Linked DNA regions of Homo sapiens. The protein of the gene in region 5 purifies or fractionates together with the protein of the main gene of each other region. This does not show direct contact. Each region holds a gene or a part of one and is shown on either strand. Other genes may lie near its edges.

The links.
Region 1: the proteins of MYF6 (region 5) and MBIP purify together in Homo sapiens (affinity purification with mass spectrometry; 2 studies listed by BioGRID and IntAct, with this or other methods). This does not show direct contact.
Region 2: the proteins of MYF6 (region 5) and KAT14 purify together in Homo sapiens (affinity purification with mass spectrometry; 2 studies listed by BioGRID and IntAct, with this or other methods). This does not show direct contact.
Region 3: the proteins of MYF6 (region 5) and IRGC purify together in Homo sapiens (affinity purification with mass spectrometry; 2 studies listed by BioGRID and IntAct, with this or other methods). This does not show direct contact.
Region 4: the proteins of MYF6 (region 5) and YEATS2 purify together in Homo sapiens (affinity purification with mass spectrometry; one large-scale study listed by BioGRID and IntAct). This does not show direct contact.

Annotation. Positions count from the first base shown.
Region 1 is NC_000014.9:36,300,835-36,303,638, forward strand, and holds part of MBIP (MAP3K12-binding inhibitory protein 1), read right to left. Parts: intron 1-2,804. UniProt on the Homo sapiens protein: Inhibits the MAP3K12 activity to induce the activation of the JNK/SAPK pathway. Component of the ATAC complex, a complex with histone acetyltransferase activity on histones H3 and H4.
Region 2 is NC_000020.11:18,154,856-18,158,372, reverse strand, and holds part of KAT14 (cysteine-rich protein 2-binding protein), read right to left. Parts: intron 1-3,517. UniProt on the Homo sapiens protein: Component of the ATAC complex, a complex with histone acetyltransferase activity on histones H3 and H4. May function as a scaffold for the ATAC complex to promote ATAC complex stability. Has also weak histone acetyltransferase activity toward histone H4.
Region 3 is NC_000019.10:43,714,679-43,718,890, forward strand, and holds the start of IRGC (interferon-inducible GTPase 5), read left to right. Parts: upstream 1-1,397; 5' UTR 1,398-1,464; intron 1,465-2,198; exon of another isoform or gene 2,199-2,271; intron 2,272-3,701; exon of another isoform or gene 3,702-3,769; coding exon of another isoform or gene 3,770-3,880; coding exon 3,881-4,212. UniProt on the Homo sapiens protein: Required for sperm motility and therefore male fertility, via positive regulation of spermatozoa fibrous sheath formation.
Region 4 is NC_000003.12:183,809,293-183,812,809, reverse strand, and holds the end of YEATS2 (YEATS domain-containing protein 2), read right to left. Parts: intron 2,792-3,517; exon of another isoform or gene 2,359-2,791; intron 2,336-2,358; coding exon 2,227-2,335; 3' UTR 186-2,226; downstream 1-185. UniProt on the Homo sapiens protein: Chromatin reader component of the ATAC complex, a complex with histone acetyltransferase activity on histones H3 and H4. YEATS2 specifically recognizes and binds histone H3 crotonylated at 'Lys-27' (H3K27cr).
Region 5 is NC_000012.12:80,706,168-80,709,987, reverse strand, and holds MYF6 (myogenic factor 6), read right to left. Parts: upstream 2,355-3,820; 5' UTR 2,269-2,354; coding exon 1,750-2,268; intron 1,465-1,749; coding exon 1,374-1,464; intron 1,147-1,373; coding exon 1,028-1,146; 3' UTR 514-1,027; downstream 1-513. UniProt on the Homo sapiens protein: Involved in muscle differentiation (myogenic factor). Induces fibroblasts to differentiate into myoblasts. Probable sequence specific DNA-binding protein.

The DNA.
Region 1 (2,804 bases), on a different chromosome or scaffold from region 5:
AAAAAAAGGTAATGTTTAGAAAAATCTAAGCATCATTTTTTTTTCTTTATAAAATACTGTACAAATTATGTACAGCCTTGGGAACCCTGACAGAAAAAAAACCAACCAATTTACCAATACCAATTACTGTCTGTAACCAACATCTACCTTATATTCTGCAAGTTACCCTCTAAAGAGGATGACGTTAACAATATATAATAGTAATATTGCAGCAACATGCTCATCCTTGGCAATACATATTTTCCCATCAACTACCCGCTGCTAATGAGCCTGAGTGATTTCGGAAAGAGGTGCTCTGGGGATTTTCTGCTTAGTTTTTTTTCATAACCTTTCCATCCTAGGGTATTGAACAAGTGAAGTGACAACAGACAAAGGAAAAACGGAATCTGGTATATGAGGCCAAGGGGTGAAAACACACATACACACACCCTGGACTGACTATAGTAGACACTGTGGTTGTTTATGCAAGCAGCTACCTATCCACTACTTCTCTGTGTGGCCCAAGCCAATGGCTTCCCGGTCTTGTCAGTGACTGAAATGGGCATGGGTCCAGTTCTGGCCAATGAGTAAAGGAGAGGTCTGCTGGAGATTAAGAGGAGAGCTTCTGGAAAAAGCTTCCTCACATCTTTTGAGAGAAAGCCCTTAAAGAAGGCAGTTCCTCAGGATACTGCCGTATTGGGTAAGACACCTGAAAGTGCTGTAGCCATCTTGCCATCTGCCTGGGAAAGAAGTTAACACCAAGCAGAGTTAAGAGGGGAAAGAAACCTGTTTTCTCACAATTATGATTTAGCCACTGAATCAATTAAATCTGAAGCTTGTGCTACCATGGACTTCCTATTTTATAATTTACATAATGTTTAAGCCAGTTTTGAGTTCAAATTTCTTAGTTGAAGCTAACAACATTCTCACTGATCCACTAATGAGCCTTTTAAACTTTGGCCTAATGAATTCTTTCTAGACTTTTTCTTAGTTTCACACAAGCACTAGCTTTTGAATGGCAAATTAGTAAATGAGTATATTTGACAAAGAAACTGTGAATGTCCAAGACAAAATGTTCTCATGAGCATTTCTGACTACTGAGATTTTAAAGACAGCATTAAAACTCACATTTTCCTTTGTGTCAAAAGTTGATTCAAAGAACATCTAGGTATGCTTATCAAGTTACAATAAATGGGAAATCATTAAGTATTAGAATTAGTAATTAAGAAATAATAGAGCTCAGATAATTATGCTCCTTCCTTTGCCAAACCAAGCTGGATACCTGTGGTAGGGCCTATGGGCAAATAAGGAATCAATGTTTAATTTGGCGATTGATCAGTCTCCTAACTTCCTAAGAGGTGGCTTTTTATACACTTGATGCAAATATAATTGCCCTTGGCCAGGCGTGGTGGCTCATGCCTGTAATCCCAGCACTTTGGGAGGCCGAGGCGGGTGGATCAAGAGGTCAGGAGATCAAGGCCATCCTGGCTAACATGGTGAAACCCAGTCTCTACTAAAAACACAAACAACTAGCCGGGTGTGGTGGCAGGTGCCTGCAGTCCCAGCTACTTGGGAGGCTGAGGCAGGAGAATGGCATGAACCCGGGAGGCGGAGGTTGCAGTGAGCCGAGACTGCACCACTGCACTCCAGCCTGGGCGACAGAGCAAGACACCATCTTAAAAAAAAAAAAAAAAAAAAAAAAAAAATTCCCCTTGTTCTCCTAATCGTTTAACCTGTAATATATTGATAGTTTCCATGCTATTAAACAATCAGATTACTACTGTATCATAGAACCAAAGCAAGAAATATTAGAATGAGGAAAATAAGGTCATCAGTCGCTCAGTGACTTAAAAACAGTAAAATGTGGCCTTTTGGACTTGTTTTAGCTCTGAGCAGAATATTTTGATAAAAAGAACACTTAGAAATACCATATCTACCGTGGATACACTAGATTAACTTTACTGTTTGTTTTAGGTATAAGGAAATCTCAGTACAGTTCCTGACTTATGATGGCTAGATAAGGTTTTTCAAATTTACAATGCTGTGAAAGTGACAGACATTCAGTAGAAACTGTACTTCAAATGCTGAATTTTGATCTTTTCCTGGGCTAGTGACATGTGATACGATGCTCTCTTGTGATGCTGGGCAGTGGCAGTGAGCAAAGCTCCCAGTCAGCCATGGGGTATGAGGGTAAACACCCGATACTCTACAGTGTACTGTGCTGCCAAGGGACTTTCCTCAACTGTACATGATAGGCCAGTGTACACATTCTGAACATGTTTTAGGCTAGGCTAAGCTATGATGTTTGGTAGGTTAGAGGTGTTGAATGCATTTTAGACTTAATAATATTTTCAGTTTTTGATGGGTTTATTGGGACATAACCCCATCTGTATAGAAGTATAAAAGGTGGACATTTTAACAGGTTTTGGTACCTGAGAGAAAATACTTGAGAGCACAGCACACTAAAGAAAGAGCTGGAGAAAGGTAATGCAAAATTGTCTCTCCTCACCCATTATTTTACCTTACCAGGTTCCTAGTCATGCACCGCTTAATGATGGGGATATATTCTGAGAAATGTGTTAATTTTGTCATTGTGTGAACATCATAGAGTATACTTATAGAAACCTAGATGGTACACACCTAGGCTATATGGTATAGTCTATTGCTCCTAGCATATAAACCTTATGGCATGTTTCTGTATTGAATACTGTAGGCAAGTGTAACACAATGGTATATGTGTATCTAAACACGTCTCAACATAGAAAAGATACAGTAAAAATACCATACTATAATTTTATGGGATCACTGTAATATATGCAGTTGAC
Region 2 (3,517 bases), on a different chromosome or scaffold from region 5:
CAGTCTAACAGTTGGAAGGTATTGCTGGGAAGGCAAAGGAAAACCATTCTGAGGAACAGAGACGTAATATTAATAGAAAACTCAGAAAATAAACAAAACAAATAAGCTCAGCTATAGTAGGCATAAGCACTATCTGAGGCTGGGTGCGGTGGCTCACGCCTGTAATTCCAGCACTTTGGGAGGCCGAGGCGGGTGGATCACCTGAGGTCAGGAGTTCGAGACCAGTTTGGCTGACAGGGTGAAACCCCGTCTCTACTAAAAATACAAAATTAGCTGGGTGTGGTGGCACATGCCTGTAATCCCAGCTACTCGGGAGGGTGAGGCAGGAGAATCTTTGAACCCGAGAGGCGGAGGCTGCAGTGAGCCAAGACTGCACCATTGCACTCCAGCCCGGGCAACAAGAATGAAACTGGGTCTCAAAAAAAGCACTATCTGAGATGGAGAGAATGAAACCCCCAAGCTTTTGGTTCCAAAGTACCTCTCCTACATTCTTATCTTTTTCTAATCTTTCCAAATCCTCTCTAATAAATACAAAATGTAGCATAAACACATACAATAGAATATTATTCAGTCTTAAAAATAAAGGAAATCCTATCACATACTGCAATGTGGATAACCCTTGAGGACACTTATGCTAAGTGAAATAAGCCAGTCCCAAAAAGACAAATACTGTATGGTTCTACATATATGAAGTATTTAGAGTAGTCAAATTCATAGACACAGAAAGTAGAATGGTGACTGCCTAGAGCTGTGGGGAGGGGAGAATGGAGAGTTATTTAATAGGGATAGAGTTTCAGATCTGCAAGCTGAGAAGAGTTCTGGCCATCTGTGAATCTATATTCAAATACGTGAACATACTTAACACCACTGAACTGTACACTTGGAACTGGTTAAGATGGTAAATTTTCACTGTTTTTACTGCAATAAACAAACAGAAGTCTGGGCAACATAGTGAGACCTCATTTTTACAAAAAAATAAAAATAAAAAAATTAGCTGGGTGTGATGGCACGTGCCTGTGGTCCCAGCTACTTGGGAGGTTGAGGTGGGAGGATCACTTGTGCCTGGGAGGTAGTGGCTGCAGTGAGCCATTACTGTGCCATTGCACTCCAGCCTGGGTGACAGGGTGAAACCCTATCTCAAACAAACAAAAACAATAAAAAAGACTGACAAAGACTCAAAAGATTTTAAAAACCAATGTGTTATTTACTGTGTCGAAAACGGGTGCGTACTTGTACATTGACAGTGGGACTATAAATGGGCATATACTTTCTGGAGGTTACTTTCATAATGTACAGCAAAATTGTGTGTATCCTCTGACCTCGCAAATCTACTTCTAATCACAAAAACACAAAGGATATATATACAAGAATATGCCCCACAAGGCTAACTTAAACACAGAAAAACTGGAAATAACATAAATGTTTATAAAATTATCGGCCAGTGTTACAGATTTCATCGTATCCTCCCAAAAGATGTTGGAAGTCCCAGTACTTGTGAATGTGACCTTATGTGCAAACAGTGATCATGAGGTCATTAAGTTGAACACTAATCCAATATGACTGGTGTCCTTACACAAAGGGGAAACTTGGACACAGAGACAGACGTGTAGAGAGGGAAGATGCATGAAGACACAGGGAGAACGTCATCTACAAGCCAAGGAAGGCCTGTGGCTAACAGAAGCTAGGGGAGAGGCATAAAATACTCTCTCCCTCACAGCCTTCAAAAGGAACCAATCCTATCAACACCTGGATTTCAGATTTCCAGCCTCTAGAACTAGAATACATTTCTGTTGTTTAAGCCATCCAGTTTGTGTTACAGCATCATTAGCAAACTAATATAGCCAGCTAAATCACAGCACAACACATAATGAGACATTTGTATGGAATGGAATAAATTTGTTGCCAGGACATATACAAACACAGTATTTATGAATGGCCTCAATAGTTTTCCCCCAAAATTATTATTGTGGTAAAATATACATAACATTTACTATCTGAACAATTTTTAACAGTATAGTTCAGTGGTATTAAGTACATTTATATGGTACAATCACCACCACCATCCACTTTCAGAACACTTTTCACAGGGCAAAACCGAAACTCTATATCCGTTAAACAACTCCCAATTCCACCCTCCCCGCCAAGTGCTGACAACCACCATTCTACGTTCTGTATCTGTGATTTTCACTACCCTAAGTATCTCAGATAAGTGGAATCACACAGTGTTTGTTTTCTTGTGATTGGTTTGTTTCACACAGCATAATGTCCTCAAGGTTCATCTACACTGCAGCATGTGCCAGAATGTCCTTCCTTTTTAAGACTGAATGATATCCACTGTATGTATATGCCACATTTTGCTTATCCATTCATCTACTGATGGACACTTTGGTTGCTTCCACATCTCAGTTATTGTGAATAATGCTGCTAAAAACATGGATATACAAGTATCTCTGAGACCCTGCTTTCAGTCCTTTTGAGTATATACCCAGAAGTGAAATTGCCAGATCATATGATCATTATATTTTTAACTATTTGAGGAAACACCACACCATTTTCCACAACGATTGTACAATTTTACATTCCCACCAACACTGCAAAAGGGTTCCCATTTCTCCACATTCTCGCCCACAGTTGTTGTTTTGTTTCTTTGATAATTGTCATCCTAAGAGGCATGAGGTGGTATCGTGTTATAGATTTGATTTGCATTTCCCTAATGATTAGTGATGCTGAGCATCTTTTGATGTGCTTATTGGCCATTTTAATATCTTTGAAGAAGTGTCTATTAAATGCCTTTACCCATTTTTGCAATGAGGGGAGCTATAACAACAATGGCTGCCATCTCTTTTCACCTCTATGATTAGAAGCAGCAATCAGTGATCAGAGCACAAATACCCAGTATTTGGAAAACAGGCTTATTTTTGCCCACCCTGGATGCTACAAGCTGTGTGTAAGCCACTCCAGGAACACACACACAGCTTTCTTCCTAGTGGCTGGAGAAGGGGGATGGGTAGCACCAAAAAAACCCCCACCTTTTTACATTTAAACTTTAATAACATATTAAAGGCATAAAAGAAAAACCTGTAAACATCTGAAAGAAAATTCAGAACTTCATTACACTGTATAGCATTCTCTTAGATCTTGTGACAAATGAGAAATGGTTACAATTTTTAAGAATTTAAAGTATGTCCTGGCCAGGTGCAGTGGTTCACGCCTATAATCTCAGCATTTTGGGAGGCCAGGCGGGTGGATCACCTGAGGTCAGGAGTTCAAGACCAGCCTGACCAATAAGGTGAAACCCTGTCCCTACGAAAAATACAAAAATTAGTCGTGCATGGTGGGGTGTGCTAACCTAAATAATTTTATGTACCATTGTAGAAACAAGTTAAAAAGTATATGAAAACTTAGTTATTACTGAATAATTGCCTAGTATTTGTTCATTTAATCTGCTTTTACAGTCCTGGCCTTGAATTCTTCCAGAAGGTATAGTTTTGATTAGTGAAGAATAGCTTGAATATTT
Region 3 (4,212 bases), on a different chromosome or scaffold from region 5:
GTGCGTGTCCATGCATTTTGGGAAGGAGTCCTTGCTGTCTGCTGGTCTGTGTGCTCGGTGTCCGGGGAAGTCTGAGAACCATGTTGTTCACTCTCTTCAGCTCTGTGTGTTTGTGTCAGTCAGTGAGAGCATGAGTGAGTCGTGTGTCTTTTGCCCTGCACCTCCCTTTCACCTGTGGCTTAAGAACTCTGTACTATGCGGCCAACAGCCCACTCTTCCCCAGCTCTCAGGGTGGCTCTGAGCTAGTCTATTCCCCTTCTGGGCCTCTCTCTCCTTAGTTGTTCTCAGAGGCTCCTTTCCAGAACTGGCCTGCAGATGGTCAGGAAAATCCTCTGAGTAGCGTTATTGTAAATTCCCTACAAGAGGAGAATGGAGAAGGCCCTGTGGAGCCTGGCCTGGGCAGAGAGGAAGCCCGGAGGGGAGACAGGACAGAGACACTTATAAAGGACAAGAAGGGGCCGGGTGTAGTGGCTACACCTGTAATCTTAGCGCTTTGGGAGGCGGCATAACCTGAGGTCAGGAGGTTTGGGAGGCGAGGCAGGCGGATAACCTGAGGTCAGGAGTTCAAGACCAGCCTAGGCAACATGGTGAAACCCCACCTCTACTAAAAAAAAAAAAAAAAAAAAAAAATTAGCCAAGCCTGGTGGTGCATGCTAGTAGTCCCAGCTACTCAGGAGGCTGAAGCAGGAGAATCACTTGAACCCAGGAGGCGGAGGTTGCAGTGAGCCAAGATTGTGTCACTGCACTCCAGCCTGGGTGACAGAGCAAGACACTGTTTCAAAAAAAGAAAAAAAAGAAATCAATGACTAAATTATTGGGCTTACAAGATAGCAGATCAGCCTCCCGAGTAGCTGGGACTACATGCATGCACCACATCTGGCTAATTTTTGTATTTTTAGTAGAGATGGAGTTTCACCACATTGCCCAGGCTGATCTCAAACTCCTGGCCTCAAGTGATGCACTCGCCTCGGCCTCCCAAAGTGCTGGCATTACAGGCGTGAGCCACTGTGCCCACCAGCAATGACCGAATTTGTATCATCAACTTTCACACTTCTCTGGGGAACTGACAGTCCCCTGGGTGGAGGGTGGAGTGGTAGCAGGGCCAAGCCCTTGGAAACCAATCTGTGAATCTGAGACTTTGTCCTTGGGGGGTGATGGAGACCATGGAGGATTTTGAACAGGTCTTGGTGTTAGAAAGATCTCTCTGGAGTCTTCAGGGGAACTGGAGGGCCCAGTGTGAGTGGGTGGTGACCCCATGAGCAGCTGGGGCTTGGGGTCCCTGCTCCACCTCCGGGCCCCACCCCCTGACATCACTGTCGCATTATTGCACCAGGTCTGGCTGACCAATAAGCTGCTGCTTGCTATGATAATGGGTCCTAGCAACGGTGTCTGACCTTGGCTAAGAGGGAAGGAGATCCTATCAGTGGGGAGAGTGTGAGGGGAGAGGGAGAGCCTGCAGGGCAGGTGAGTCCCCCAGGGCTCTCTCGCTGGGCCCCTGTGCGTGGGCGGAGCAGGAGCTTATGGTCTAATCCGGACCCCCTCAGCCCAAATTCCAACCACTGACTTGTCTGCCCCTTGCTGCCAGGACCTGTTCCAGGTTCCTACTCTTCCCACCGCAGACCATACTAGGGAGAGGGCACACCCAGGATAGGAGGCTCAGATCTGGAGGCAACAATGTCTTTTTTTTTTCCTTTTTTTTTTTCTGAGACGGAGTCTCGCTCTGTCGCCCAGGCTGGAGTGCAGTGGTGCAATCTTGGCTCACTGCAACCTCCGCCTCCTGGGTTCAAGAGCTGGGACTACAGGCATGCGCCACAACACCTGGCTAATTTTTGTATTTTTAGTGGAGATGGAGTTTCACCATGTTGGCCAGGCTGGTCTCGAACTCCTGACCTCAAGTGATCCACCCACCTCGGCCTCCCAAAGTGCTAGGATTACAGGCGTGAGCCACCATGCCCAGCCGGGAACAATGTCTTAAGGACATATTTCTGTGGGGGGTGGAGTGGGGTAGCAGAGGATGGGGTGAGTGGTAGGAGGTGAAGAGACGGGGTGCAGGGGGCAAGGAGACAATGCAGGAGGCAGGGACATGCAGCTGAAGGGAGAGTAGCTCTCTAGGTGGGTGAAGGAGCCTGGGGACCTGGGTTGGGGTCCTGGCTATGCCTCTGGATGAGGAGACCTCATTTGTCTTGTCTGAGCCTCAGTCCTTCTCCCTGTCAAATGGGGACAGTGATCCCAGACATGAGCAGCTCTCCCAGGGCACCCTGAAGACCCTTAGTGAGTAAATGTATTTTAGAGATGATGGGCCAGAGGAGGGTGAGTGGGAAGAGGGAGGACCAGGGAAGCTCCTGGTGAGGAGGAGGGATCTGAGGGGGGACCATCACGACAGGAGCTCTGGGCGGTGGGAGGGGAACTGAACCCCGGGAGGCAAGGGCTGCCATGGCAGGGGTGGGGTTTCATGGAAATGACTCCTGGTGTCCAGGTGGTCCCCATGTCTGGCTTCCCGAACCCAAGGGCGTCTGAACCCAAAGTCAGCCTAGGGCTAGCTGAACGGGGTTTGTGGGCATCACAGCAGCCCTGCGAGGTGGGGAGGAGTATCCCCCACGGGGCAGCTGAGGCTCAGACAGGGCGAGGACTTGCTCAAAGTCACACAGCTAAGAATATTACTAATGATAAGAATAATGACGATGATGGTGATGCCAATGACACGAGGCACCTGCCCTGAGCCAGGCGCCGTTTTATGGGCTGCTTTATGTCATAACTCATTCAAGTCACAGAGATCCTAGGAGGTGGTTTGCCAGGATTGTAGGTATCATTCTCAGTGTTCAGATGAGGAGAGTGAGGAGAGAGTTAAGTAACTTGCCTCACATCACTCAGTAAGTATGTGGTGGAGCCAGGATTTGATCCCAGGCAGTCTGGCTCCGGGTCTGGGTCCCCTCCACCCTACCCTCCAATCCCAGCCACCGCAGGAGTGCAGCTGTTTCCTCTGAATGGGCCTGTACCACCCTTTCCTATGCAGCCCTGGCTATGTAATTTGCCCTGGCTATATAATTTGCAAGGCCCAGTACGAAATGAAAATATGGGGCCCCTGGTTCAAATATTATAAAGAATTTCAGGCCAGGCATAGTGGCTCATGCCCTTAATCCCAGCGCTCTGGGAAGCTGAGGCAGGAGGACCTTGATCTCGGAAGTTCAAGACCAGCTGGGACAACATAGTGAGACTCCCATCTCTACAAAAAATTTAAAAAGTAGCTGGGCATGGTGGCATGCGCCTGTGGTCCCAGCTGTTCAGGAGGCTGAGGTGGGAGGATTGCTAGAGCCAAGGAGATCAAGGCTGCAATGAGCCATGATCGTAGCACTGTGCTCCAGCCTCGATGACAGAGAGACCCTGTCTCAAACAAACAAACAAACAAACAAACAATTTCAGCTAGTGTCAGCAGAGCATTAAACCAAGCACTGGGCCATTCTAAGCACAGAACCCTCCAGGGCACACATACACCCAGAAAACTGACCTGTGCCTAGGTTACCCTGGAGACTCCAATAGTGCTCCAAGAGGCTGCTTGGTGGTCATGCCCATTACCCAGAGAGGTGCTTCATTTTGCCCCTGGTCACACAGCAAGTTAGTGGCAGAAAAGGGATGTGAACCTGGGCCTGCCAGACCCCAAAGCCCTCTAACTTGTGCCAAAAATGTGTCCCCAATTCTTGAAGGAAAAAGAGAGCTGTGGGCTTCCAGGGCGACTCCCTTCACATCCGTGGTATCTGTCTCTCCCTGCCCCATGCCAAGGCCCAGGAGGTGTGAATGGCTCCCTTCTCCTCTGCAGGCGCTGAGGATCACGCATCCTGTGACTCTCCCCTGTCCCCCGCCACCCTCTGAACCACTGGCCACCATGGCTACTTCAAAGTTGCCCGTGGTGCCTGGGGAGGAGGAAAACACCATCCTTATGGCCAAGGAAAGGCTGGAGGCCCTGCGCACAGCCTTTGAGTCGGGTGACCTCCCCCAGGCCGCCTCTCACCTCCAGGAGCTGCTGGCCTCCACGGAAAGCATCCGCCTGGAGGTGGGCGTCACGGGCGAGTCGGGCGCGGGCAAGTCCTCCCTCATCAATGCCCTGCGTGGCCTGGAGGCCGAGGACCCTGGCGCGGCTCTCACGGGCGTCATGGAGACCACGATGCAACCGTCGCCCTATCCACACCCACAGTTCCCTGACGTGACCCTCTGGGA
Region 4 (3,517 bases), on a different chromosome or scaffold from region 5:
CAAATTTTTTTTAGACTTTTATGTAACTGTAATCCTTTATCTTATACGGTTGCAACATTTTTTTTTTTTTGGCAAGAAGTAGAGGAATTAATTTAAACATATCAATAAGACTCTACACCATCACCTCATCCCAGTGCAGGGAGAACCCTGCCTGAGTACCATGCTTCAAACTCAGAAACACCCACCACAAATACCAAAAGATTTATTGTAGACAATTTTGTTACACAATTATACACATTATGATACACGTTTGAAACATTAACACACGTGGAGACTGCTAAATCATTTAATATTTCTTTTGCAAAAAGATAATTTCTTTAGGCTGTGATACCTGCAATAACCAATCTGTTCTCATTTGGATCAGATCTTTCTCCCTCTGTCCTGGAGATCTCACAGTTCACTTTGCTGAAGCAATCTATCCACTTCCCTATCGACCTTGCTTATAGCAGTTCAGGTATAGACTATTTGAGCCTTATATACTAAACTGTTAAGCCAGTGCGTGCCCTATGCCCTGCTGAGAATAGATTCCTTCTGTACTTGCAGCCCTCAGATGCTGAATTGATCAATCAATTTTTGAGACGGGGTCTCCTCTGTCACCAGGGCTGGAGTGCAGTGGTATGATCTTGGCACACTGCAACCTCCGCCTCCTGGGTTCAAGTGATTCTTCCTGCCTCAGCCTCCCGAGTAGCTGGAATTACAGGCACACACCACCATGCCCAGCTAATTTTCTGTATTTTTAGTAGAGACGGGGTTTCACCATGTTGGTCGGGCTGGTCTCGAACTCCCAACCTCAGGTGACCCACCCACCTCGACCTCCCAGAGTGCTGGGATTACAGGCGTGAGCCACCATGCCCGGCCCAGATGCTCAATTTAAAAGGCAGAGTTTATTCAGTCACTCCCCGCCTTACCTTCCTGACTCAAACATCTACAGGACCCATGAAAACAGGAATTACGTTGCTTGGGTAAGTTTCTCTGACTCTGACTCACAGGTTTCCGATTTTCCTGGAGCAGAATAGAACAGATTTCTGACTGGGCATGCATTCTTTGTTCTGCCTTCCACACAGGCTGTGTTAGGAAGTCTGAGATGGGGCGCCTCCAATAGACCCGGGCACCTGGCAGCGCCACCTTCTCCTGCCTGCCACTCCCTCCCATCGAGGGGGCCTCTGCTTGTGGACACAGACTAATCTCACTGCTTCTGGGCACTGGCATCCTTATTTCTGGGCATGGGCAGTTACTTCTCCAACTTTAAGGCACTCACTGGTATTTCTTTTAAATACTTTTCTTCTTGGGAAAAACTCCTTAACAGAGAAGAGTATATACAATCCACGGATAGGACAGACGACCCCAGAAGAGCCTGCCGGGCGCCGCTCCCCACTGGCCACTCAGCATGGGGTCAGCAGCAGAAGCTCCTGCAGGCCATGCAGATGGCGTGGAACCTGCGATCTGCTTCGCACACATGTGTAACGCTGCTACACTTCTGCCAAGTGTCTGGGACTGGTGCACACAGTCTATTCCTAGCATAGTGAGTTTTCTTGGTTATAATCAAACCTCTTCCTGACTCCTGTTGGGACCTCTCCGTCCCTTGCCACTGCTTTGACAATGGTTCTAGTAATGCTCTCGTGCTCAAAAAAGGAATTCTGCTCAGTCTGCCGTCTCTCAGGCCTTCATGGTTCTTGGCTCTAGGTATGGCCTCTTCCTATAGCTGACTCACTTGGGCTCAGAGTACAGCCCCTCCACACCAAGGCCAGGCATGGGAGAGAACCACCTGCTGAAGGCTGAAGCCCAATCTCTCTTCAGGGTAACTGCTGGAGCTACTGGTAACTCCAGCCCACAAAATGGGTGAAATCTCTAGCCTGCCACTCATTTTCTACCTCCTGGGGAGGCGGGCCCAAGGAGCCCCCTTAAGCACACCCAGGGAGAAGGGCCTGAGGCACACGGCCTGGCCCGCTCTCGTGGGGCCTTTACAAAGACTGCAGAAACGCTGGCCGACAAAGCACGGATCCACTGACAGCCTCACTCCACACTCAGGAAACAAACTCCTGTCCTAGGAGGATTTCATCTGGAGTGCAGCGTGCTGGTGACACGTGGGAACAGGCAGCGGCAAAGGTTGGGTAGCCATGACATGCCGAGTCACACTGGAAACCACCTCCTTCCCGAGCAGCAGGGTCCTCAGTTACAGCTTCGCTGTGCCTTCAAAGCCTGCTTCTCCAGGGCACCTCACTCCGCTCACTGGTCCTCATTCAATATTCCCATGTGTTTGTTTGTGAGGAAGTCCAGAAAAGGAATGTTGCAAATGGCCTGGTGAATATTACTCACTGTAATTTCTTTGGGAATCCTGGTCCAAAAAACAAAGGGTGTTACCAGGTGAAATTCTCTCACGTATATCTCATCATTTATTCACTTAACTCATCACAGGGACCATCCCAGGCAGAGGCCCCGTGGAGAGGGCTCCTGAGCCACAGACATAGCTTAGGGCCACTCTGGGGTGAGGACTGCCTTCCTGTCATAGGCATGAGAAGGATGTCAACAAGTTGGTTGAATAATTAGGAAAAAAGATTCTGAGAACTGAGAAAAGAGAAAGAAAACAAAGCGGATGGCAGAACGGAATGACACATTTGTGAGTGAGTCTCAGCAGACCGAAAGCTGAGTCAAAGCACCACAAAACTCTGGGACCTTATTTCCCATCTCCTAGAAAGACGGGAGACGGAGCCACGCCAGGCCAGGCGTGATGTTAATCGTTCCATCAAAAGCACCTAAGTCACTCTACCCCTCCAGGACAGGGAGCACAGAGGTAAGCAGGGGCCACAGGAGGCCCTGGCTCACTTGTGGGTCCAAGCAGGACAGTGGGCAGCAGGACCGGAACTCTTGGTTCCCCTTCCTTTTCTCTAAAGACGCCTATGTTGTCTGATATATTCCTGTGAAGTTTCATCTACTATTCCTCTGATTTAGGCCCTTCATGTCCTCAGGCACTTTGCTACAATTTTATAAATCTGTGACAGCCTTTAGCATAATGCAATAAAATAATATTTGTTTCCTCCGAAAGAAAAGCAGATGTGGCCTATCTACCATCCTTTCAGGGCCTAGGAACAGACTGAAACTCAGTGTCTTAATCAAAGACAACGAGTCAGCAAAGAGCAGTGGCGAGCCCAGGGGCCTCAGAGCCAATGAGACCTGAGTCGGAAGTCCAGGTCTACACTGTATTTGCTGGGTAAGCTGGGTAAAATTACCTTTCAAAGCCCGGTTTCCTGATTTTTAAAAAGAGAATAATAGTTCTGCAATGAAAAACAAATTAGGTAATATATGCAACGCTTGGCCCTCGTGTCTGACATGTAATGGACACTGTTATCTTTAATTGCAAAGCTAATATTTATTCAACCCTGTAATAAAACAGAGTCCTAGGTGTCTGTGAAGTAATGAGGAGGATATAAACCTCTGAGCAAAGCTGAGTGAGCTTTCACAACCATGAGGTTCTCTAAAAATGACAAAGCAGACCCTTGAGCTCATCTGGCTCTAAGAG
Region 5 (3,820 bases):
GCCCTGAGGATGCCGGATGCAGCCCCGGGAACTCCAGATCCACACTTCAGGACAAGAGCGGCCTGGGAAGGCTAAGAGGGAAGGCCGTTTGTGGGTAAATCCGCTGAAGATCTTTTTGGGAAATGAGCACAGTTTTGGTGTGGTAATTTCTTGCAACCATATTTTCCTAGATTGAAAATTCCATTGTTAACTTTGGGTAAGTAAATCTCACCCAGATCTCCAGGTATAGGAGTGTAAAACCAGACGGAAAAAGATGCTGATAAAAGGAAAAATGACATTTTTCTTCTGGGCACTATTCACTTCCAATGACAAGTGTGAGGTCTACGAGAGAGAGAACAGTATCCAGTTTAATTCAGACTAAGGAAAGCCAAATTTCCTTTCAATTGGCATGTAAGGAAACACCCAAATAAATGGGCTTGTGTGGTGTCTAAATTAAAATATGGCTCCTCTTTATTTTTGTACACATGCCTCCAAACATATTTTTCCAGTTCCATCAAATTAGGACCAACTTTGTTCATATAGAAACTTCTTTTTAATATTACAATACCAGGATCCTCGCACATTTTATATACATCATTCCACATTTAAAATATATTTCAGGTTTACGTAAAAAAAGAAAGTGTTAAACTATTTACAAAAATACATTAAATACCCCTAACATTAAATGCAACTTTCCCACTTTAGACAGGAATGAACTTCTTTTGAACATGGCACAAAAGGATCACCGTAATAAAAGTTAATATAGTATAAAACCAACCAAACAAAAACAAAATGAGGCTAGACCTAAGCCACTCGCAGTTCCAAAAAAATAAAAGCCCAAAGCCGAAAGGCGTTTTCATTTGAGCATGCACAACAGATTTCGCAATTTTCGCAACGTTTCTTTGTGAATGTGTCTCCTTCCCTTTCAGCAACTTTTCGGTCTGGGTTCCTAAATGTTAATGTAATGTGACCTAATCTAAAGGATTAGGCCAGGAAGGGTCGGTGGGATCTTCCTGCTGCGTGGAGAAGGTCTCAAGCGCAGGCTCAGTTACTTCTCCACCACTTCCTCCACGCAGGGGAGTTTGCGTTCCTCCGAGGAAATACTGTCCACGATGGAAGAAAGGCATCGAAGGCTACTCGAGGCTGACGAATCAATACTTGCTCCTCCTGAGCGAAAAAACAACACACAAACATAGCACCCAAAGAAGGAACACGAAGCAGCTCCGCGCCCCGCGCGAGGCCGCTTTGGCAGCGAGGAAAGGCCTGGTCCCGGCGCGCAAAGAGCGCCCTTTTCGCAGGGCGCGTCCCTGCTCTCGCTTCGAGCCCTCTCGGCCCAAGCATCCTATCCACCTCCCGGATTTTCTCTGGTGCGGCCCAGAGCCCTTTTACTTTACCTTCCTTAGCCGTTATCACGAGCCCCCTGGAATGATCGGAAACACTTGGCCACTGGGAGCTGCAGGTGCGCAGGAAATCCGCACCCTCAAGCTGGAGGGAAAACCAAGGCAGCGGCAGATTAGGAAAGAAACATCGGTTCCGGGGTTGGGGTGGGGTGGGGGGCGGCTTTCCTGCTTCCTCGGGCCGGGTACGCATTTCCTGCCTATTGCAAGCACCCGGTCTTCTTGGGTCACTGGGGGTTCATTAGAGACGGAGCGGGAGGGGCGGGCGAGAAAGGGGGAAGGGAAAAAAGACCAAGCAGCTGGAGGTTAAGGCCCCGCGGAAGGCGTTTAATCAGCCTTCGCATTTCCCTGCCCCGGCAGCATCTAGGCTTACATTTTCTTGTTTGGGTCTGTAGCTGAAGGGGTCCACCCCCAGCTCCTGCATCTTCTCCTGCTGATCCAGCCGGTGCAGCAGGTCCTGCAGCCGCTCAATATAGCTGATGGCGCTCCGCAGAATCTCCACCTTGGGCAGCCTCTGGTTGGGGTTGGCCACAGTTCGCCGCTTCAGTGCCTCGAAGGCCTCGTTGATTTTCTTTAGCCTCCTCCTTTCGCGCAGGGTGGCGGCTTTTCGCCGGTCAGTGGGGGCAGATTTTCTCTTGCAGGTCTTGCAAGCCCAGATCAGACACTGGCCGGGGCAGTGTGGAGGCTGCAGGCCCGGGGGCGCCAGGACATGTTCCTCTCCGCTGCTGTCGCTCCCCGCTTCCGGGGGCATTTGGTCCTGGCAGGGGGACAAGGTACCATCACTCCCTGGATACAAAGGAGAGCCTTCTGCCACTTCTAATGGCTGCAGAGTAACATTTTCCCCATCCAAGTAGAAGAAATAGGAGCCAGTTTCAAAAAGGTCCATCATCATGTTCTCCTCCTTGGCCTCTGACTCGATCTGAACTGGGTGATGGACTCAAAAACCCAGAGGAACCACCCAGATGGCATTTAATTAGTGCAGTGACATAAGTCGACCCAGCTTTATATATAGTAGCTCCTGAAACTCAATCCAACTTTTAGCTGTCATGGAGCATCAGTCTCCCAATGTGATTGCAGCTAGTGCTCTCTAGAACATCTAGTTTGAAAGAAAACTGAGAAGTGTCACCTCCCAGAGTGTTGTGACAATCTATGTGCAGACCAGGTTACACAGAGAGAATCACATAACTTAAACAAAGCATTGAACCCTTCCATTTTGGGCAGTTTAGATACTAACCTGCTTACAGGACAACTTCAAAACAACTGGGGATTAACATTGCCCTATTCCCCTCCCCCTGCGCTCATCTGAATTCTAAGTATAGACCCATGATGAAAGATTTCAAAGGCAATAGCCATTGCTCCAAAATAGCCGGGTTAATATTTGCAGAGTGGTTCAGCTCCTTTCTCTCTCCTGCCTCTCAAAAAGATGCTATTCCTGTGATTAAAACCATTACAGTGCTTCAAAGGTTATACATGACTTTCAGGCTTCAACCTCAATAGAAGCAGGTAAATCTCTTTCCTCTCTTTTACTAAGGCTGCAAGATGATTTGGGAAATGGAGGGGGTTGCTGAAGGGTGCTCACATCCCATGATACTGGATGAAATGATTCTCTGGGTCCTTCCATAGAGACCGTCCTTGACTATCTTTTTTTTTTTTTTTTCCTTTGGGGAGAGGGGCAACCAGGATCTGAATTCTGTACCCTTCCATTTGTGGAGCAGTATTACATATGAGGTAGGGAGTGGGATAGAGGATGGGGTTACAATACATGTAGTAACTCCTCCTTAAAAATAGTTTTAGTGAAAACAAGACTCACACCACAGCTACTTGATATTTCAGCATTTACTTGTGGCCCCCTCCAAGGTGCCTCTCTTATGATTCCAGTTCTGCACACTGTGTGCTCACCACTTTTTCTTTTGCATTCTCACTATCCATTGACTCCAAATAAGTTGTTTGATAGGATTTAAGTGAGAAAGGTTAGCAACCAAGGCACGAGCAAGGAAACAGCATTTTTTAAATTGCAGCTTGCCCATGGTCCACAAGATACATGTATTGTTCTTCGGGAGACAGTACAATATGAAGGTCAAGTGCGGGGGCCCTAGATTCCAAAGAACTATCAAGTCCTAGCAAGGTTAATTTCTATGTATATATCCATGGGTAAGTACTAGATCTTGATGTCTTCAAGATGATAGTGGTTTCCTTACAGTTTTAGTGAGGATTCAATCAAATGATACCATGCATGTGAAACACATAGCACATAGCTGCTTGATGAACAGTAGTTATCATTTGTAGTATAAAGCCATGTTAGGGCAAAGACTCATTCCTATGAATGAAATAAAGCATAGCTGTTGGAGAGGTTTTTCTTTTTCTTCCCTCTCTCTGTTTTGTTGTTCTTTCCCTTCCTTTCACCTTTCCTCCTAGAGCTCTAGAAAGACTTCCTAGCTGTAACT